Regions from separate parts of the Homo sapiens genome. Here regions 1, 2 and 3 are each reported to be linked to region 4. The links are microRNA targets in miRTarBase. Many come from high-throughput screens and were not tested one by one. Region 4 holds a microRNA gene; each other region holds the end of a gene's coding sequence.

The links. The annotated mature microRNA hsa-miR-4688 reads UAGGGGCAGCAGAGGACCUGGG and lies in region 4 at 1,566-1,587, opposite strand. An mRNA with a match to its seed (bases 2 to 7 or 8) in the 3' UTR can be bound and repressed. Matches are read on the target gene's strand: a 7mer-m8 pairs with bases 2 to 8, a 7mer-A1 pairs with bases 2 to 7 and ends in A, and an 8mer does both.
Region 1: miRTarBase lists SZRD1 as a target of hsa-miR-4688. Seed matches in the 3' UTR shown: 7mer-m8 at 2,959-2,965.
Region 2: miRTarBase lists ARID5B as a target of hsa-miR-4688. Seed matches in the 3' UTR shown: 7mer-m8 at 1,367-1,373 and 7mer-m8 at 2,701-2,707.
Region 3: miRTarBase lists MFGE8 as a target of hsa-miR-4688. Seed matches in the 3' UTR shown: 7mer-A1 at 1,461-1,467, 7mer-m8 at 1,578-1,584 and 7mer-m8 at 1,808-1,814.

What each region holds. Positions count from the first base shown.
Region 1 is chr1:16,394,592-16,399,979 of GRCh38, forward strand. SZRD1 (SUZ RNA binding domain containing 1) reads left to right here. Exons shown (of 4, transcript NM_001114600.3): 4 at 447-3,554. The coding sequence ends at 549. It overlaps SPATA21 (spermatogenesis associated 21), which reads right to left. Exons shown (of 13, transcript NM_198546.1): 12 at 4,753-4,930; 13 at 4,052-4,231. The coding sequence ends at 4,174. Among named protein-coding and RNA genes, the nearest start is that of SZRD1, 30 kb to the left of the region's middle.
Region 2 is chr10:62,092,072-62,097,445 of GRCh38, forward strand. It overlaps ARID5B (AT-rich interaction domain 5B), which reads left to right. Exons shown (of 10, transcript NM_032199.3): 10 at 1-4,873. The coding sequence ends at 959. Among named protein-coding and RNA genes, the nearest start is that of LINC02621, 160 kb to the right of the region's middle.
Region 3 is chr15:88,895,282-88,900,669 of GRCh38, reverse strand. MFGE8 (milk fat globule EGF and factor V/VIII domain containing) reads left to right here. Exons shown (of 8, transcript NM_005928.4): 7 at 859-1,014; 8 at 1,138-1,987. The coding sequence ends at 1,275. It overlaps HAPLN3 (hyaluronan and proteoglycan link protein 3), which reads left to right and starts at 5,126. Exons shown (of 5, transcript NM_178232.4): 1 at 5,126-5,211. RefSeq lists enhancers at 3,012-3,061, 2,998-3,292, 5,289-5,388.
Region 4 is chr11:46,372,655-46,378,042 of GRCh38, reverse strand. MIR4688 (microRNA 4688) reads right to left here and starts at 1,641; the gene lies at 1,559-1,641. It overlaps DGKZ (diacylglycerol kinase zeta), which reads right to left. Exons shown (of 31, transcript NM_001199267.2): 12 at 5,366-5,388; 13 at 5,159-5,272; 14 at 4,942-5,082; 15 at 3,808-3,886; 16 at 3,589-3,644; 17 at 3,377-3,439; 18 at 3,204-3,277; 19 at 2,998-3,109; 20 at 2,412-2,611; 21 at 2,092-2,192; 22 at 1,898-1,977; 23 at 1,646-1,715; 24 at 1,479-1,519; 25 at 831-970.

The DNA of each region.
Region 1 (5,388 bases), not on the chromosome of region 4:
CCCTGAGTCAGCTTCCCAAAGAAGCAGGCTTGCGGAGCCAGAGTGACGTGGGCCCAGCTATATGGACAGTTGATTTTAAGATGGGGGACATCTAGGCCAGGTGCAGTAATCCCAGTACTTTGAGAGGCCGAGGTGGACGGATCACTTGAGGTCAGGAGTTCAAGACCAGCCTGGCCGACATGGTGAAACCCCATCTCTACTAAAATTACAAAAATTAGCTGGGTGTGGTAGCATATGCCTGTAGTCCCAGCTACTCGGTAGGCTGAGGTAGGAGGATCACTTGAACTCAGGAGGTGGGGGTTGCAGTGAGCGGAGATCGTGCCACTGCACTCCAATCTAGGTGACAGAATGAGACTCCGTCTCAAAAATAAATAAAAAATAAAGAAATGATGGGGGACATCTATTATATCCTTCTTCAGGCCTTCCTCTGCTTTTCTTCCTTTCAGGCCAACCAGGATCTCCCAACCCGAAGACAGCAGGCAGCCCAATAATGTGATCAGACAGCCTTTGGGTCCTGATGGGTCTCAAGGCTTCAAACAGCGCAGATAAATGCAGGCAAGAAAAGATGCCGCCGTTGCTGCCGTCACCGCCTCCTGGGTCGTCCGCCACGGGTTGCACTGCCGTGGCAGACAGCTGGACTTGAGCAGAGGGAACGACCTGACTTACTTGCACTGTGATCCCCCTTGCTCCGCCCACTGTGACCTTGAACCCCATGCACTGTGACCTCCCCCCTTCTCCCCCTTCCCACTGTGATTGGCACATCGACAAGGGCTGTCCCAAGTCAATGGAAAGGGAAAGGGTGGGGGTTAGGGGAAGGTTGGGGGGACCCAGCAAGGACTCAGAGAGTCAGACAGTGCCACTTGGCCACTTGGGGTAAAGCCAGTGCCAGCAATAACAGTTTATCATGCTCATTAATTTGGGATTTCAAAACACAAATGAAAACTCACACCCACCCACCCCCAAGTGCATGTCTCCATCACTTAAAAAGTAAGTTCCATTTGAAAATATCCTTTCTTTTTTTTTTCTTCCTATTTTTGTTTGTTTATACAAATATCTGATTTGCAAGAAAAAGTGCATGGGAGGGGTTTTAGTGGTTTAATGAATTTTTAATTAAGAAAGGGTAGTTTGGTAGTCTACTTAAAAATGTTTCTGGGAAATTCACTAGAAACATTAACCAATAGGATTTTGGTGAGCTTAGCTTCTGTATTCCTACTGCCGCCCAGAAAAGGGGCAGGGCTCTGCAGCCGCCAGGACAGACGAGCACCCCATGCCTATACCTCCCTCCCCGAGCTAAGTCCCAGGGCATCTGGGCCTTGCCTGGAGACTGGGCTAGCTCTGTAGGCTCGGAGAGCCTGGGGAGGGTGCCAACCCCACCTCTAGTATTTTGGGAGATAGGGAAAGTGAACCGACTTCCCCTTCCCATACCCCTCAGGGTGGTTCCCTACCAGCCAGGCTTACTACTTCTAGAAGAAAGCAGAGTGCCAGGGAGTGAGATTGCATCCCTGGGCTTAGAAGTGACGGAGAGAAGACTTGTTTAGTATTTTGCCATCAGCACAAGGAAAACCAGGAGAGAGTCTGCCTCCAGGACTCTGAGCCTTCTGCCTCGTATGTTCAGAAGGTGGATAGGTCTTCCCACTCCAGCATGGCTTGAACTCTTAGGGGTCTGCAGTGCTCCATCTCCATTGGTGGCCCCAGCTCAGTAACTATACCTGGTACATTTCCTGTGTGCAATCAGTACCTTGAAGGCAGAACATTCTGAATAAAGTTGGAAAAAGAACAGCTTTGCTTTGCAAAGATTGATGACAGACTGGTTCCTCAGAGGCCTAGGCTACCCGTCACCCCTTTTTCCAGAGCGAGGGCCTGGAATGAAGGCAGTTTATCCTCTGTCCCTGGAGCCTGGGGTTTGCTTTGGCTCCTTGAGGTGGAAGAGACTAAGAGGGCAGCTGCCCAGAGCAGCTGTGTGTACCTGGCTCCTCTCAGGCTTCCTGATCCCTTCCGTTGCACTGCGCCTTATCCCTCAGCCAGCCAGACAGCCTCCCTGCTCCTGACCAGCAGATACGTTTCGGAGTGGTTGGTGTGGTTTTTGTGATGAGGGCAGCACGTGGTGGCCAAGGTGGCAAGCTGAGTCTCACAGGCTCACTCCCTCGTTGGTTCCCTGTGGGAATGGTAGGCCAGGCCCAGTAAGCCATGCCCCAACACGTCCTCTCCTCCGGAGGAAGGGCCAGCTGCCAGCTGAGTCAGCAGCTAGTCCATAGCACAGCCTTATAACTGTAAAGCCAGGCATTGCCCATGAGCAGAGCTGGAACCAGAGCTTCAGTCAGTAAGAGGGAGGATTACCTTCAGGAGAAGGCAAGGAAGAAAACTGGCTGCTATCTTTATAGTTCCACTGCCCTAACCAAGTGTCCACATTCTAAATGTGTAGTGTCCATCCCTTATGTAATAGTGGTTTCCCGCCCAAAGTGAGACTTTCCTTTTAATTGGAGAAGGGTATAGAGGTAGTCCAGGTGGGAACGCCAGAAGTGCTGATTGCCCAGCCATTGGGACCACCTGTTCTTGCCCCACTACCCTCTAGTGGGAGGCCAAAGTAAAGGCTGGCTGGTGGGTGTCTGTGGATTGAGGATGTGGCAGGGACTGGTCCTCCCACCTCCCTCTGGCCAAAGATGGGCTTTGCCCGCTGTGTGCCTGTCACCACCCACCAGCAGTCATGCCCTGGGCTTCCCAAATGGAGAGGTAGCAGGCAACGTTTTTAAAAAGAAAGAAAACAGGAAACTGTATTGTGTCGGGGGAGGCGGGAGGGAGATGAGGAAACGGTTTGGATTTTGTGTGTGGGAGGGTATTTTTTGGGGGTAGTTGTCTGTAACTTTCCTAAGTGCTTTTTTTCCTTTTCTTTTTTAAAGTAAGTTGCAGGCTTTGGCTTGGAAAACCCCAGGGGGATGGGGGGCAGAAACCTGAGGCTGCTGCCCCTTTATCTGCCTTCACGGTACTGTCCCCTTCCCCCAGCTCCTCCCTGACCCCATGGGCCAGGCCTCAGACCTTCCAGCTAACCGCTTCCCATGAGCCACTACTCTGATGTCAGCCTATAACCAAAGGAGCTGGGGGGTCCAGGCCTGGTGACCAACCTTTCTCAGCCCACTCAATCAGGGTGCTCCCCACCTGCAGGCAGGAGGCAACACCCTATCTGCTACCATCAGCCCCTTCCAGAGCCCATCTGCCCCGCCCAGCCCTGCCCTGCCCAGCCATACCCTGCTCTGCCCCATCTGGGGGTGCCCTGCTCAGGGATGGGCTGGCAGGGCTGTACCCAGCCTCCCTGGTAAGCAGAGACTCAAGAAACCTCTGGGGTCCTGTTTTCTGGTCGTGTGATCCCAGGGGTGCACATGGGCCCCTTGGGTGTCTGAACAGAAGGGCATGGGAGGGAGGGCTGCACCCCTGCAGTCTTACTCTGCTGGTGTAGCGGGCAGCTGCCCACTCCCACCCCACCCTGCACCGCGGGCTCCTGAGTCGGCAGATTAAGCATTTTATAAATTGTATTTTAAATACATGTTTTAAACTTGTCAGATCTTTGTCCTCATTTCAGTCCCTGCCCTCTACCTCTTGCTGTGGCCGCTTATTTAACCCTGGGGGATTTCCCTCTGCCCAGTCCCAGGGAAAGACTGTCTTTGGTAAAACACGAGGCCGGGTGGTATGTGGGTTGAGGGGAAAGGACCCACCCCTCTTGGGGCTCCCAGAGAATGAGAGCCCTGGGTCCTGGGGCTCTGTCGGGGGAGCATGCAGAGGCCACCTCCTGCTCTTCCACAGGGCCTGTCTTAGAGCCAGTGGAGAGAGAGAATGGCTGCTTTTGTGGGGCTCCCAGTCCAGAGGGGGATGTGCTCACCTGAGGAGAGGCCTAGCCCTGTGCTTTGAGAAGGCACAGAAGGTCAAGACTGCACGCAGGGGCACCTGTAGCAGAAATCCCAACCCCGCGCAGGGCTTTGAGGTGGAACCCTGCACTCTGAGAGCCCAGTGGTGGCTGGGTGACAACTTGAGGGCCTTTCTTGGCAAGAGGCACAGAGGCTGAAGTTATTGGTGTTTATTAGCTCACCAGGCCACAAAAGCAAATCCCAGCAGCAGCTCCTGCCTGGTGGCCCATCTGTCTACAGGCCTTGAGCAGCTGCCTAGAGTCAGGCCTCCAGAGGGTCAGTGGGTTCGAGCTGGCACAGAGCTGAGCCACTTTCTGCTGTCAGAGTTGTGTTCCCTGGGGAGAGGAGTAGGGCAGAAGGGTGGGAGACATGTGGCCCTTTCCCTATCTGCCAGTATATGAGCCATCTGTGCGTGCCCAAGTGAGGAGAGAGAGGAGGCCTCCCCTCAGAAATGGTGGAACCAGCAGTTGTGCTTAGGGGCCTGATTCCAAGTCCAGAGCTCCCTTCCCCAGCGGCCTGGAGGGGGACTGCTGCAGGAGACGTTCCCCTCTGCCCAGGTGCACAGTCTGCTAGTCCTAATATGGAACCATAGGGAACTCAGAGTACTCAGTTAGGTGCCACTGAGTCCTGGACACAGGAAAGCAGAAGCACTCTGGCTTCAGTGGAACAATCTGCTGGGTACACAGGCCCTCAACAAAGGTTTGTCTTCTTCGCCTTTTACCCTTTCTCCTCCCTGGAGCAAGCAGCCTCTCAGGTATGATCTCTTAGAAAGATGGATTCCCAGGCATTAGGCCAGGGGCCTCTTAAGGAAGAATCTGGAAGGGCCTGGGCTGGGACCCTTTCTCTGGGCACCCACCTGTTTCCTTGAGATCCTGACTGGAAGAAGGGGCTGCGGATGTCAGGATCCAGGCCAGGGGGTGTGCACTGGTCTAGTGCATAGTGGTTGCTCGGCTGCCTACGGACCATCTTCTTGTCCAGCTGTGGGCAGAGCAGGATGCAGGGCACCTGGGCATAGGGGCTCTGCAGGTTGGGAGCTGGTGAAGAAGGAGGCAGAAGGAGGAATGCTTCACAGCATGCCCAGCCTTGGGAAGCAGGCAGATTCAAGTGAAATCCTGGCGTTGCTACATAATGACCTGAGTGGTTTGGGGCAAGTCACTTAACCTCTCTAAGCTTCTGAGCTGGAGGTGATAGTGGTACCCACCTCACAAAAGTTGATGATGAGGATTAAAGGAGAAATATATGCAAAGCACTCAGCTCAGTGCTGCACACAGAATAAGAGCTGGTAACAGCTTAACAAGGAGCAGAGGACTTTGTGATGGGTGTTGGCAAAGTCTAGTAGGCATGCTCTAGAAAGACTGCAAAGCTCCTATCCTGTTACTTGGCACATAGTAGGAGTCTAATAAATGGTACCTGGGGGAAGGGAGGCAGGCTTGCCCAGTGGAAAGAGCATAGATTTTGGGGTCAGACCTGGATATAAACTCCCCTTTCCAAA
Region 2 (5,374 bases), not on the chromosome of region 4:
TTCCTTCCCACAGACACCAAGAAAAGCTCCATGTAAATTATCTCACGTCCCTGCACCTGCAAGACAAAAAGTCGGCGGCAGCAGAAGCCCCTACGGATGATCAGCCTACAGATCTGAGCCTTCCCAAGAACCCGCACAAACCTACCGGCAAGGTCCTGGGCCTGGCTCATTCCACCACAGGGCCCCAGGAGAGCAAAGGCATCTCCCAGTTCCAGGTCTTAGGCAGCCAGAGTCGAGACTGTCACCCCAAAGCCTGTCGGGTATCACCCATGACCATGTCAGGCCCTAAAAAATACCCTGAATCGCTTTCAAGATCAGGAAAACCTCACCATGTGAGACTGGAGAATTTCAGGAAGATGGAAGGCATGGTCCACCCAATCCTGCACCGGAAAATGAGCCCGCAGAACATTGGGGCGGCGCGGCCGATCAAGCGCAGCCTGGAGGATTTGGACCTTGTGATTGCAGGGAAAAAGGCCCGGGCAGTGTCTCCCTTAGACCCATCCAAGGAGGTCTCTGGGAAGGAGAAGGCCTCTGAGCAGGAGAGTGAAGGCAGCAAAGCAGCGCACGGTGGGCATTCCGGGGGCGGATCAGAAGGCCACAAGCTTCCCCTCTCCTCCCCTATCTTCCCAGGTCTGTATTCCGGGAGCCTGTGTAACTCGGGCCTCAACTCCAGGCTCCCGGCTGGGTATTCTCATTCTCTGCAGTACTTGAAAAACCAGACTGTGCTTTCTCCACTCATGCAGCCCCTGGCTTTCCACTCGCTTGTGATGCAAAGAGGAATTTTTACATCACCGACAAATTCTCAGCAGCTGTACAGACACTTGGCTGCGGCTACACCTGTAGGAAGTTCATATGGGGACCTTTTGCATAACAGCATTTACCCTTTAGCTGCTATAAATCCTCAAGCTGCCTTTCCATCTTCCCAGCTGTCATCCGTGCACCCCAGTACAAAACTGTAGGCTCAGCTCTGCCCAGCAGTCCAAAGCGGCATGGCCAACAGAGCTTCACTCCTTACCCAGGAGTGCTGGCTTATAGAGTTAGAAGTCAGTATTTCTTCTAATCTGAGGCTATGATCAGTCCCAGCTGTAGGGGCCCAGAGGGGAGGTGAACATGCCTGATTTTTGTGGGACAACTCTAGCCCACAAACTGACTGGCTGGTGAGTCTTGACTCCCTTCCAACACAGATGCCCAGGCACCTCCAGATCATTCACTTCGCACGTGGGCCTTGTGAAGGGATTTGTGAATATCCAGGAAGAACTTAGAGGACCCCATCTGAGTTCGGATGGTCAGGAAACAATCTGGGCAAAAAAGAGGCAGGCATTTCAAAGGAAGGGGCAAGGAAGACTGGCAAACAGATGGCAAGGGATGCCCCTCTTTTTCATAAAACTCTCCAAGGTTCAATCAATGCAATGTATAGTGAAACTTCAATAGATCTTTCATTTTGACACTATTAAACAATCCAGAGAAGTAAACACTGTTAAATTGACTGTATATATTTGCTTCTTAAAACTACCTGTATCACTGTTTGCTCACCTAATTTATATACAGGTAGTTCCATTTTCTCCCAGTTCCTTCTCGTCTTTTTTTTTTTTTTTTTTTTTTTTTTTATTAAATGGTATTGCTTTTGTTTGCAGGTCTTTTTGTTTTTGTTTTGTTTTTGAGGCTGACTGACTGTCCTAGTTGTTGTGTGTTTGTAATTTTTCCACATCTTATTTTGAGCAGCTTTGGGTGGTAAAGTTATTGTTTACAAATTGAAGCAACTGATTCTAGTGGAACAAATGAAAAAGAAACAGTCAAGCACACAATAGTGCAAAGAACGTTCCTTTGTAGATCCGCAACTTAAGGATTTTGTTCCTCATAAATGGCATAGTTGAAAGAGCTTATACACTGCTTACCCAGCCAAATGCTTTGCTTTGAAGTATTGGGTTCTGTGAAAATATTGAGCATTGTACTTACCTTATCTAGGCTGTGAAACTGTCCTACATACCAGAGAATCATAAAAACAAAAACCTCACTGGCAGCAAGCTGCCGAATAACAACAGAGTCTAGAGGACATATTTGTGGGCTGCACAGATATTTTAGGAATTTCAGAAATTAGAACAGGAGCCAAAATGATTTACATTGGCGTTGGCACTGATTCCTTTAAATGGTCTGGGAAAGGGGGTTGGGAAGAGGATGGAGCTCAACTGGCCAGAAGAGGAGCAGCTGCAGTCCTGATAGCTTCTCTAGCCTCGGTCTTTTGAGTGATAAGTAGTCATGTTGTTTTCATCCAGTTGGTTTCTTGTCATTCCCAAGAAGAATCTCCCAGGCCACATCTTTGGGGATAACTGACATACTGGATTAGCCTTTTCAAAAGAAAAGTCATCCTATTTGGTTTTATGGGGTGTGAGTTTTGTGTGTACACACACAGAAACATGTAAGGTGGTTTGGGTCATGTTTTTAACCACCTGGCAATACAGTCCACTTTCTGGTTTCTTTTATTGTGGGAAGTAAATGGTCAAGCTGCTCAGGCAGTGAAAAGATGTGGAGAATGTCCGTTGTCATTCTTGCCACTGTATTCCATTTGCTACCGAGATATAACATTAAGGTGGACACATTTTCTAACTGTATTAATTAAAAGTCAATGGATACAGAGAGTGGATTTTCTCCCCAAGTCCCATCCCTGCTGAAGACCGCTTGGATGAACTCCCCAACCCACTGTGCCCCTCCCGCAACACTACCAGTAGACTTTAGAACCATAGTTAACTAAGTCTTTTACCTCTGAGATACTTAATTCTGGGAAAATTGGTGACAATTTTCAACTTCTAAATAGGTAACTCGACTGCAAAATAATCAAAACTGATAACAATGAAACTGCGGCTCTTAAACAAAGCCATGCATGCCGTGCATTTGTATTGAAATGTCTCCATGATATGAAGCCAAATATTCAATGTAACATACTTAATATCCAAAGGTGGAAACAAAAGAATGTAGAGATCCAGTGTTAAGAGTTCCATTTGCTTCAATTAATTATTTACCTTCCTGTGGAATAATATATATATATATATTTAATAGAACCATAGATAGACTAGTAGAATTTAGATTATAAATGTGTGAGTGCAGATTATCCTGCTATTGCACAAGCTAGAGGGGGGAAAAATCTCAATTCCAGCTGGCAAGATGCTAGCCAGGACACATATAAGAAAGTTGCACTAGATTGAATGGTCACAGAATCGGAGGACATGGAAGAAAAAGGAAACTTCGGTGGTTCTGCAGCAGACATGGGCTAGGTCATATGTGGTTTCTATGAGTTCGTGTCTCAAAAAAAAAAGGAGGGGGGGCATCTGTCCCCGGTGGAGCTCACCTATTTGGAATATGGGGCATTTGTTTTTTCCACTGCAATGATTTCAGTCTGGTTTCATCATGTTGGAATTCGATCACACCATTTTCAAACAATGTTAACATAGTCCAGCTTTTGTTTTTCTCATCTCTTCTGAGAGGAGACTCACTGTTTCTGTCTGAGGAAGCTCATACCCTCGGCAAAACATCAGGACAAATAAAGAGAAATGGGGGTACGCATTCCCAACAGAAGCAGTGTGTTATTTGTTTTAAAACTCTGAACAGAGATCTTGGAAATCTTTCAAAAAGACCATTGAATTCTTCATTGGCTGAGAACGACGTTTTAAAATGTCTTAAATAAGGCTTTGTTTGCATTGTTTGAGTTCAAGGGGCCTTATTATTGAATGGAATTGCACAAGCCTTTCTTTGTGCAATCAAACCATTGTTATTGGTAGTTCTGTAAAGGAAACTGTGGAATCGAATTGGCAGTGGAGTCATAAATCTATTTACTGAGTGTGGCTTCCAAGAAATGTTGCAATTCAAAATGCACTAAGTCTGTGATTTATTGGAGATTTGGAGATTCTAAATAATATTTTTAAAAAACTTCCATGCAACTTCTGGTTTAATGTTTGGCAACTCCACATGATAAAAAAATAAAAACAGCCCAACCGAGTTTCGGAATTAAGTATTCTTCTAGTAAGTGATTCAAACTTGTAATATTTGCCACAGGACTGACTTATTTATTTACTAGCTAGAAGCTCTTAAGTTCACTTGTTTATCAGGGCATATACAGAAGGGTTTGTTAAAACTCGATGTTAACTTTACAACTTTCTGACCTGGTGCATGAATTCTCAAGTACTGTATTTCACTGTGTTGGTGTGTCTGATGGAAATTTCGAGGTGGTCCCACAAAAATATTTTATGTAGTGTGCCTTCAAAGAGAACCATTTATTTCTCTTCACTTATCGTCCCACAAAGTCACATTTGGTGGTGGTCAGCCAAGTCGCATCTGGTCTAGTTTTACTCTTGTCCCAATTTTAAAGAGAAATGGGAATGAGTTTGCCCTGGTGAGACCCATACCATTGCAATGATTATCTTGAGCACTTAAAGTCCAGTGTTGGCTGTTAGTGTATTTGATATTCTGCCTGTCTCCTCATGGTTGAAATATGTCTGAAGAATAGCAGCATAATCTCTTGGCTGTTTATACTTTTTTAAACTTTCCTGTGTTGTAAATATTGTATACTTTTGGTGATTCCAGCTATGTAACCTCTATGCTCTGTAAGGTGATTATTTGTATATAGCAACATGGCCCAGTGATATTATATAGTTTCCCAATGGAGAGGTTATTGAGTAACCTTTGCATTAGTTTAAACACTACCAGAAGAATGCTGAGCCAACTATAAACACTCAATTTTGTATGTTTTCCAAATTGTACTTATTACTGCTTTTGATACTGTATTACGTGCCAATAGTTTCCCAATCACATAGCAGGCAAGAGATATTTTGTACTTTTTGATCCACTGTAATATTTAATAAAAAATGTTACTATCTGTTTCCTTTTGGGTGTGAGTAATCTGTCACTCTTCCTGAGGAGCCTGTGGCCTCCCCAGAAGACTTTCCACCCCATCTGTCCAAATTGAATGATAACAGTAATGATGGCAATGTCTGTAATTCACTAAGGACCTAGTGGGTGCCCATTTGGCAAATACCTCTTATCTTCACAACCTTATGTAAATATGGTTATACCTATTTTACTTATGAGAAAACTAAAGCTTAGAGAGGTAAATCAACTGGTCCAAGATCACCCAACAGATGGCAGAGTCAGGATTTGAAGCCAGGGCTCTCATCTATGTACTTCCTTTGTATACCATCCTCCTCCGCTGGTAGGATAATCAGAAAAGTTATTTATTTATTTATTTGTTTGTTTGTTTGTTTATTTATTTTGAGACAGAGTCTCACTCGGTCGCCCAGGCTGAGTGCAGTGGTGCGACCTCAACTCACTGCAACCTCCGCCTCCCAGGTTCAAGCGATTCTCCTGCCTCAGCCTCCTGAGTAGC
Region 3 (5,388 bases), not on the chromosome of region 4:
CTGCTGGCTGGCAGTGAGTTGGGTTTACACCTGGATGTTGGGGAACTGTGTGTCCAGGTGCAGCTGGCAGGTTCTCCAGGGAGGTCAGGGACCGGGGACAGGAGGTCTGTCTCAGGGCCCCATGGAGCACACTGCGGAGCTGGGTTCCCTGAGGAGCTGCCTGCCTGTGGACACCCTCAGGACCAGTGTCAGACTGTGGGCGGCGCCGCAGGGAGCCTCTAGAGCAGTTCATGCCCCTCCAGGCTGTGGCCTCTCCTGTCCTTCTTCCCATCACAGTGCAGTGCAGGTCTCAGGCAGGGGTGGTTGGCGTGGAGTTGGCCAGGGCCCAGACCCTATGAGCTTTATAGCAGTGAGGTACCGAACACCATGTGTGGCAAAGTAGGTGGTATTATTTATGCCCCCTCACCGCTTTTTTTTTTTTTTTTTCTGAGACAGAGCCTTGCTCTGTCACCCAGGCTGGAGTGCAGTGGCGCCATCTCGGCTCACCGCAACCTCCGCCTCCCAGGTTCAAGCGGTTCTTCTGACTCAGCCTCCCTAGTAGCTGGGATTACAGGCAGCCACCATCATGCCCAGCTAATTTTTTGTATTTTTAGTAGAGACGGGGTTTCACCATGTTGGTCAGGCTGGTCTCGAACTCCTGACCTCAGGTGATCCACCTGCCTCAAGTCTCTCCCAAAGTGTTGGGATTATAGGCATGAGACACCATGTCCGGCCTTATGCCCATTTTATAGCCAAAGAAACTGAGGCTCACCCAAGTAGTTTTTTTCAAAACTAGAATTCATGCCTCAGTGTGTCTGCCTCTTTTCACCTTACTGGAGATGGTCCAAGCAGAGAAAATGTGGTTGGTTTCTTCTGTAGGTGGACCTGGGCTCCTCGAAGGAGGTGACAGGCATCATCACCCAGGGGGCCCGTAACTTTGGCTCTGTCCAGTTTGTGGCATCCTACAAGGTTGCCTACAGTAATGACAGTGCGAACTGGACTGAGTACCAGGACCCCAGGACTGGCAGCAGTAAGGTGGGTGTCTGTCCAGCTGCCCACCCTTTGCCATTCCTTCATTACTTCCCTGGGAGTCTGGCCTGGGGCTCTGAGGGGAGGGGGGCTGGCTCGGGGTCCTCCTGACACCCGCTCTGCCTCTAGATCTTCCCTGGCAACTGGGACAACCACTCCCACAAGAAGAACTTGTTTGAGACGCCCATCCTGGCTCGCTATGTGCGCATCCTGCCTGTAGCCTGGCACAACCGCATCGCCCTGCGCCTGGAGCTGCTGGGCTGTTAGTGGCCACCTGCCACCCCCAGGTCTTCCTGCTTTCCATGGGCCCGCTGCCTCTTGGCTTCTCAGCCCCTTTAAATCACCATAGGGCTGGGGACTGGGGAAGGGGAGGGTGTTCAGAGGCAGCACCACCACACAGTCACCCCTCCCTCCCTCTTTCCCACCCTCCACCTCTCACGGGCCCTGCCCCAGCCCCTAAGCCCCGTCCCCTAACCCCCAGTCCTCACTGTCCTGTTTTCTTAGGCACTGAGGGATCTGAGTAGGTCTGGGATGGACAGGAAAGGGCAAAGTAGGGCGTGTGGTTTCCCTGCCCCTGTCCGGACCGCCGATCCCAGGTGCGTGTGTCTCTGTCTCTCCTAGCCCCTCTCTCACACATCACATTCCCATGGTGGCCTCAAGAAAGGCCCGGAAGCGCCAGGCTGGAGATAACAGCCTCTTGCCCGTCGGCCCTGCGTCGGCCCTGGGGTACCATGTGGCCACAACTGCTGTGGCCCCCTGTCCCCAAGACACTTCCCCTTGTCTCCCTGGTTGCCTCTCTTGCCCCTTGTCCTGAAGCCCAGCGACACAGAAGGGGGTGGGGCGGGTCTATGGGGAGAAAGGGAGCGAGGTCAGAGGAGGGCATGGGTTGGCAGGGTGGGCGTTTGGGGCCCTCTATGCTGGCTTTTCACCCCAGAGGACACAGGCAGCTTCCAAAATATATTTATCTTCTTCACGGGAACTCTTGGTGTGGTTCGTTATTGTTTCATGGGAATGGGATTTAAATTGCGCTGGTTTCCCCATCCCCCACCTGTGGTCCTCCCTGAGCCCCAGCTTGCTTGCTTGCTTTTTTTTTTTTTTTTTTGAGATGGAGTCTTGCTCTGTCGCCAGGCTGGAGTGCAGTGGTGTGATCTCGGCTCATTGCAATCTCTGCCTCCTGGGTTCAAGCATTTCTCCTACCTCAGCCTCCCAAGTAGCTGGGACTATAGGTGCACACCACCATGCCCAGCTAAGTTTTATATTTTTAGTAGAGACAGGGTTTCACCGTGTTGGCCAGGATTGTCTCAATCTCTTGACCTTGTGATCCACCTGCCTCGGCCTCCCAAAGTGCTGGGATTACAGGCGTGAGCCACCGTGCCCAGCCCCATCTTTCTTTATGTCACCTGCCTGACTACACATAGCTTCATAGCAGGAGGCTGGAGACTTTGGTCCAGGGCGGCCTGAAGGAAGTCAGGACTTCCAGGTCCTCAAAACCTGACTTCCCCTCTTCCCTCTGCTTTCTACCTCCATGCCGTCTGGCCCTGAGCCCTACAACTGCTGCCTGGTCAGGGGCCCAGCGAGTGCTGGCAGACACTGTCTCCTGAATGCTTTTGCTCCCTTCCTGCCAGGAAGACTGGCTGGGGCAGCTGGTTTTCCCCTTCAGCAGTTTCCATTCTCTCTGCAACTGGAGTGGTGGGCTGGAGAAACTATAAGAAACTCAGTGAACCTGGATGCCTTCCGAACTGCGGGAGTTCCTGGGGTGGGTGCAGCGTGGGACTGGAGGAGGGGGCCGGGGCTCTGCCAAGTGGGCATGAGGCCTCCTGCCTGAACACACTGGTTCCTGGTAGGCCACTGGCGTGTGTGCTCCAGGGATACCCTCTCTGCCCTCCCCTGTGTGGGGGTCATCAAGAAGTGGGGGTGGGCCTTGCGGGCCAGTGTCTTGGTGATCTGGAAGGGTGACTTGCAGGCAGAGGCTTGGCTAGCTTGGGAAGGGGTGTAGGAAAAACCACCCTCTTTGTCAAGGTGAATTTTTCCAAACTTTGGGAGCCGGCTGTGTTCTGCAGGCAGGGGGTGCATCTGAGCAGCAGGAGGTGGGGCCGCCTCTGAGCAGCAGGAGGTGGGGCCGCCTCTGAGCAGCAGGAGGTGGGGCCACAGGGCTGCCAAAGGGAGGGCGTGGCTTTGCTGGAACCACATCAGGGAAATGTGTCTGGAAGTGGTTCCTTTCTGAGACCTGCGGTTGCTGGGCTCCTGGGCCTAGCAGGGTCTGAATAAAAGGCCCAGGCCGTGGTCTTCGTAGGAACTGAGGATGGGGGACTCCCTTCCCCTGGGTGTCCCTTGGCCTACTGCCTCCCGTTTCAGAGCTCTCTTCTGCGGAGCGGTGTGGATTGGGTTTAGAGCCAAGCCTTTCTGCGTGCTTCCAAGCCTCAGGTCTCCCTCCCGGGGGAGTTTCCTGCCCTGAACCCCTGTTCCAGCATACCCTGGGGATAAGCAGACAGTGGGAGAAGCATCTCTGCTCTGGGATGGGTTGGCCACAGCCTTCTAAAAGTCCCCCTCCTGGGACCCTGGAGTGGAGTCCCCTCACTCCTGACCCCCTCCTTCCTTCCTTGGCTTCTCTCCCTCAGCAGTGTCTTCCATTTGCCCAGCTTTTACCATCACCCCTACACATTGACTTTTTTCTGCCCCACTGCAAGGCAGAGGGTGAGCGTTCAGATTCCACCTGCTGGCTACCCCTACCCCTGGCTGGCATGTTCAACTCGACTTAACTGTAGCAAAATGTGCTCTCCCTACTGTCCATCCTCTCCCCTGTCGGGAACCTGCAGAGGGACCTACCTTGGCTCCCCTTTGCCCATCAAGCCTGGCGTTCCTTTTAGGTGTAGTTTACCTGTTGATCACAGTTCTTTGTGCTCCAATGTGCCCCTGGCTGTGTGTAACACACACACATGCACACACACACACACACTCATGGGCCAACTTGAGCTGTGTTTAGGAAGAGGCTCTGAGCTCTGTGACCCTGTGACCCTTCGACCCTTCCCCCAGCCAAAGCTGAAGGACCTCCTTAGTCTTTTCTGCTGAGGAAACATCGGGCTGTCCAGGCCAGGGCCCCCATTGGTCTGGACAGGAAAGAAAACACCCTGTCCAAACAGAGGCATCCTGAGCGGCTGCCTGGATGGCTGTGCTGATTAGCAGGATTCCGAAGGGAGGCCCACCCCTGTTGGAGGACCACTCAGAAGCCTGATTGCCCCTGCAGGCTGCAGAGGTATCCCACCCTGTGTCTCCCCTCCCAGCCAGGGCCACTCATTCAAGCCCCATGTGCTGGGGATAGCACCTGCTATGTGCCTGACAGTGAGTTGGGAATCTGGCCAGTGTTTCATGATGGCCAAACTCAGGGGCATGAGGACATCAGCAACCCCTTGCTTTTTTTTTTTTTTTTTTTTTGAGACGGAGTTTTGCTCTTGTTGCCCAGGCTGGAGCACAATGGCATGATCTCAGCTCACTGCAACCTCCGCCTCCTGGGTTCAAGCAATTCTCCTGCCTCAGCCTCCCAAGTAGCTGGGATTACAGGCATGCTCCACCACGCCCAGCTAATTTTGTATTTTTAGTAGGGACAGGGTTTCACCATGTTGCCCAGGCTGGTCTTGAACTCCTGACCTCAGGTGATCCACCGGCCTCCACCTCCCAAAGTGCTGGGGTTACAAGCATGAGCCACTCACTGCACCTGGCCTCACCCCCTTGCTTTCTATTTGGAAAAGAAAGTAATACAGAAGTCTCACCCCTTCCACAATCAAAGGTGGGGAGCAGCCTTAGCCCCTAGCAGAATGCTGGACAGGGGCTTCCCCTGCTTACTCCCACTGTTTTTGGTATACCAGGCTTTCTAAGGGGATCCCCCCTCCCCAAACTCTCCTATTCCACCCCTACTCTCCTTTCCCAAGACGTGAGGGCCTCAACTCTTGCACACCCTCTTTGCGGTGGTTCCCAGCGAGTCTGGAGACCGCTCAAGCCTGCAGCAGCTCCTCCCTTCGAGCCCAGCCCTTGGGAGGGAAAGGTGCGCGTGTTCCTTTAAGGGGCTGGTCTGGCGGGAGCGCGGGGGTTTTTCTGCTGCCGCTTCCTTTCTGCCCTTTTAATTTCCCCGAAATCAGACTGCTGCCTTGGACCGGGACAGCTCGCGGCCCCCGAGAGCTCTAGCCGTCGAGGAGCTGCCTGGGGACGGTACGTGGCTTAGGGGTCGCTGGGCTTCTGGGGCTGTGTGCGGGCCGGGTTCCTCCCTTACCGCTTTGGGTGCCCTGCGGGTCCCCACACCTCCCGGGCAGGGTCCGGGGAAGGGGCAGGAGGCGTGGGCCGGGCACTGCGGAGGCCCGGGCTGAGATGGGCTGTGATCGCGGGCGA
Region 4 (5,388 bases):
AACGAGACAGAGGAAGGCCTTGCCCTCATGGAGCTTACATTCTAGTTCAGGGATACAAACAAGTCAAATAAATAAGGAGTTCTGAGAGCAGGGGTGCTCTTAAGAATTCAGAACAGGTGATGTGGCACCCCTGCAGAGGGGGTCCTGGGAGTGATCTCTCCAAGGAGGAAACAGCCAAGCTGAGATTCGAAGGGGATGGGGGTGGGGGAGCTCCGGAAAGATGGGGGAAGAGTTGGAGGCAGCGATGACAGAAGTCCAGTGGTGGCAAACACCTGATGCCTCAAAGAACCAAGAGAAGAGAGTGGGGCAGGACCATGGAGGTGAACTCAGGGAGGGGGCTGGGAGCCCAGTGCAATGACGGGGGGCCTGGGGAGAATCCACGTCCAAAGGGCTGCTGAGAAAGAAGCTTCTAGGTTGGGGAGTGGCCTGGTATGCTCTGCATTTTTAGTTGACCGTGGTATGGAGATGGGGGTTCGAGGGCACGAATGGCCACAGGGATATAAGAGCTGGGGGCCAGGGCGTGGCAGCCGGGAAGGGCTGGTGGCAGTAGGGGTGGGGAGGAGTGCTCAGGTGGTGGGTCCGGGGGCTGCCAGGACTGGCTGAAGGATGAGGTCCAGAGGAGGGAGAAGTCAGGGAGGGAACCAGGGTGGACGTGAGGCCGCTTCCCCACAGAACCACAGGGCTGAAGGCCGTCAGGTGGGCTTTGGCCAGGTTCAGGTTGACACCATTTAGTTAACTGGTGGAGGGGCTAGAAGCAGGGATTCAGAAGTCATCGGCTTACAGGTGGGGCTGAAAGCCAGGGGCTGGAGGGACGGGACACCAGGACTCACCGGGGCGTGGGTGAGCAGGGTGAGGTGGGGAGAGGGGAAGTGGGGGTTGGGAGGTCAGGCCGGGCCGATGCCCCCAGCAGCTCAGGGTCCAGGATATAAATCTCATCCTGTGCGATCTCAGTCACATAGTTGAGGTGCTCCTGTGGGGGGAGGTCAGGGCGGGAGGTCAGGGCACCTGACGGTGGGGGCCGAGGGGCAGCAAGGCTGGTAGACCTGGAGAAGCCTCTGCCATGAGCACAAACACTGAAAGGAGGTGGCCAGGCAAGGGGCCCTGCCTGTCCCTCTCCCACTCCTTCCCATTCCTGACACCTCCTCCGACTGCCCAGACTTTACCAGGTGAGCTGGCGCCTGACCAGAATGCCTTTGCTTCTGTGTCTCCCTGGATGGCTCTGGGCTTCCAGGCCCTCCTACCCACCCAGCAAGCCTTTGGTAGGTACCCCACTGCCTTTCTGGCTGGCACCGCCCTATACTCTCCAGTGTGGAGGGCAGGGCCGCACGCTGTCCATGCACACAGGCAATAGTAAAAGCTCTCAGAGGCATGAGGACAGAGGTGAGCCCATCGGGGGAGCTAACAGGGAAGGCGTCCCAGGAGAGGCGACCCTGGGGCCCGGAAGCAGCTGTGGCTGGAGCAGGCCTGCAATCGCTCACCTGGGCTCGGTCGATCCTGTAGAAGCGGCTGGCAGTGGTGGCTGTGGGAGAGAGGGCAGCTGAGGATCAGGGAGTGCCATGTCCAGGCCCAGGTCCTCTGCTGCCCCTACCTGGGATCCCCTAGGGAGGGAACACGAAACAGCTTGGCACCCTGGGAGTAGACTCACCGTCCAGGAAGCACCACTTGGGGGACAGTTTCTGGCATGTCGGGGACTTGGCTCCAGCACCATCGGGCTCCTGTTGAGAGAAGCAAAGGCCAGGCTGGGATAGAGTGGGGGCCAGGGAGGGAAGGGAACTTGGAGTAGGGGGAACCAGCACAGAGGAGGCTCCGCAGGGCGAGCTGGCTGCGGGAGGAAGAGGCCTGGCCTCACTTCCCACCACCCTCTCGGTGGGCACCTGGGGAAGCCCCCACCCCTTACCTGCTGGAGTCTCTCAATGTGGGCACGGCAGAGCTCTAGGTCACTGTCTCCTGGGACCACCACAGTGCCCAGCGGCACAGCTGGAGAACAGAGCACCTGTCAGCAGCTGGCTGCACCCCACAGCCCTGCCCAAGGGGGCCCCGGCTGCTTCAGCCCCTCCTGGCCACCCTGCCAGGCCGCCCCACCGCACTCACAGGCCTCCTTGAGCTGCTCCTTGTCGTAGTGCAGGGCCTCATAGTCGTGCATGCTGACGCGACTCACCTGGATGCGCAACTGCTCTGGCACCGGCTGCTGGCTGTCGGGCAGGGCCGGCAAGCGGGGGCTCAGCAAGGGCCCTGCCTTGGTGCCACCCTCGGCCTGGCACCAAACCACTTGCCGAGAGAAGGTCCCGCTCCACTCCCAACACCCCTGGGGCAGAGGGACAGTCAGCCCCTTTTACAGATGGGGAAATCAAGGCCCAGAGAGGGCAGGGTCTGGCCTTGGCACCCAGGGCACGTGGCAGGGTGGGACGTACTCGCTGTGCAGGGGGGCGGCGCTCCGCCGCTTGGCCTTCTGCACCATGGTGGCCTGGTTGCGCAGGGCGATGCGGATGCGTGAGGCTGCAAGCTTGCAGGGCTCGCCATCCACCTGCACCGGGATGGCCTTGGATGTGGTGAGCACCACCTCGCGACACTGCGTCAGCCGCTCGCCGTGTCCGCCCACCTGCAGCGCGGCCTGTGGGCACAGGAAGCTTGGGTCAGATGGCACCAGGGCTGGGGGCAGGGGGGTCCCAGACTCTGCTCCTTCCGAAGCAGAAACTCTAGCCAGAGAACAAAGGTGAGAGTGACCCCTGGCCAGAGGGCAGAGGGGAGGCTGAGACCCCAGGTAGGAAAGGGAAGGGACAGAGGCAATGAGGGTGACGCTCCAGTCAGAGTGGGGAGTGAAGGTATCCCGAGGCATAGTGAGGAGAGGGGGTAGGTGCCGCTCTCAAGCCAGAGGAATGAGACAAAGAAGGGAGGTGAGGGTGAACTAGGCCGCCGTGGCCCATGGAGGTGAGTATGGGTGACCCCTTCCACCTTTGGGCTGTGCTCCCAGGCACCATGGGCCCAGGGCCCACTCACCAACGACGTCATGGTGAAGCCAATGACCTCGAGGTAGCCGTCGTCATGCCGCTGGGGCTCAAAGTCGTGGTGCTCCCCAGGGTGGCCCCAGGGCATGGTGCCCGCACAGTACCTGCAAAGGCGGGCGATGACATGGGCCTCAAAACACAGTCTCTGCAGGACAAGGACAGCAGGGCTCCCCCCAGCTCCGGTAGCCCCCTCCTCACCTGGGGATGTTCAGGAAAACAACACACTGGGGTTTCAGGTCCTGGATCTTGGGAGTCAAGTCCATTCCATCACACTGGAGGCGGGCGGGGAGGGTGTTGAGGTGCATGTGCCAGGTGGCCTCCGCCTCCCTCCCTTCCGGCCCACCCACCCACGGCAGCCTGGCCCCGCTCACCACCACTCGGATGTGCTTGGCCAGGTCCTTGGAGCTGCCCATCAGGAAGTCAGAGAAAGCTGTCTGTGGGAGACAGAGGGCGTCACCATCTGCTGACAGAGATCTTTCCTCACCAGCACCCGGCAGGGCTCCTGGGGCCTGGTGGACACAGGTGGGCACGGGCACGGGTGGTAGAAGAGGTGGGCACAGGCGGGGGTGCAGACCCCACTCACCCCGGCGTAGAACATCTTATTCCGAAAGCGGCTGTTGAATTTCTCTGGGTTGGCCTCTGGGTGGAGACAAGCAGTGGGGGCCAGTGAGTCACCCCAGCCTGCCCAGGTGGGGTTGGGGGAGGGCTGGGATGGATGCCTTCACTGGCGGGAGCAGGGTCTGACCCTCCCGGGGACACTCCTGTGCCCACCCTGCCCTGGCCTCAGTGGGAGGCTGCCAACCTCGAGACTCGTGGAACTCCAGGGTGACGTGGGCGTCAAAGCCCAGGCTGAAGTAGTTGTTGAAGACATCCAGGGGCAACTGGAAAAAGGTCAAGGGACCAAAATGAGGGCTGGGCCTCACAAATGTCCCCGCTCCAGGGGCCTCGTGTGGCCGAGCCAGCTCAGCCCATCTGTTCACAGGCTTTTCCTGGTCAGCAGCGTCCGCTAGGGCTCAGCCCAGCTCACCCGCTGTCAGGCACAGCCCTGCTCTGCCTGGTGGCTCCTGGGGGATTTCCCTGCGTGCCTGCAGCATCTCTTCCCTGTCAGCTCCCCTAACACTTCTTCCTGACATGCCATGTGGAGCACAACAGCGAGGCTTGGTTTTGCTCACTGCTTAGAGAAGTGCCTGGCAGGTAGCAGGCGCTCAGTGCATGTCTATGGAATAAAGCAGCATCTTCTGACCAGGCGTGGTGGCTCATGCCTGTAATCCCAGTGCTTTGGGAGGCCGAGGCAGATGGATCACCTGAGGTCAGGAGTTCAAAACCAGGCTGACCAACATGGTGAGACCCCATCTCTACTAAAAATACAAAAATTAGCCGGGTGTGGTGGCGGGTGCCTGTAGTCCCAGCTACTCAGGAGGCTGACGGAGGAGAATAGCTTGAGCCCGGGAGGCAGAGGTTGCAGTGAGCCAAGACTGTGCCACTGTACTCCAGCCTGGGTGACAGTGAGACTCTGTCACAAAAAACAAAAAACAAAAACAAAAAAAAAAACAAGAAAAAAAAAAGAAAACAGAAAAACAAAAATTAGCCAGGTGTGGTGGCACCTGCCTATAATCCCAGCTACTCAGGAGGCTGAGGCAGGAGAATCGCTTGAACCTGGGAGGCGGAGGTTGCAGTGAGCTGGGATTGCGCCACTGCACTCCAGCCTGGGTAACAGAGCGAGACTCAGTCTCAAAAAAAAAAAAAAAAAAACAAAAAAAAAACACAGAAAAAACAGCATCTTGTGAGGCAAGTACTATTATTCCCATCGTACAAGGAAGAAGTGGAAGTTGGAGAAATGAAGAGACACGCCCGAGGTCCCAGAACCAGCAAGTGGAAAAGTGGGATCCAGTCCCCAGTCACCTGCCCTGCCCCCCACCAACCCTGGCCAACTTACCCGGTCGGTGGCGCCTTCATCTCGGTCCTCAGGCCCTGCCTCGGGGTTGGGCTCAGCGTGGAGGTCCCAGCGGTCCAGCTGTACCACGTTCCCCTCCTCCACGTGGGAGAGGATCTTGGACACAGGCTCATCTGTGTAGCCCTGGGGGAGCAGGCAGGGACTGAGCCCTCTGTGGCTGGAGAGGCCCCAGCTGCACCCCCCTCCTATGGGTGCTTACCCCACCCCAGTTGAGGGTTCGGGCCAAGTCGTTGCCAGTACCCAGGGGCAGGATGGCAACAGGGGGTGGCGGCTTCAGGCGTAGCTGGTCCAGGGTGGAGAGGATCCAGCCCACCTGGGGGAGGAAGAACAGAGGCAAATCAGGCCCACAGGGACCCCGGCTTCAGGCCCAGCCCTGGTGCTCGGCTGGCCCATGCGGGGAGCTCACCGTGCCGTCGCCCCCGCACGCCA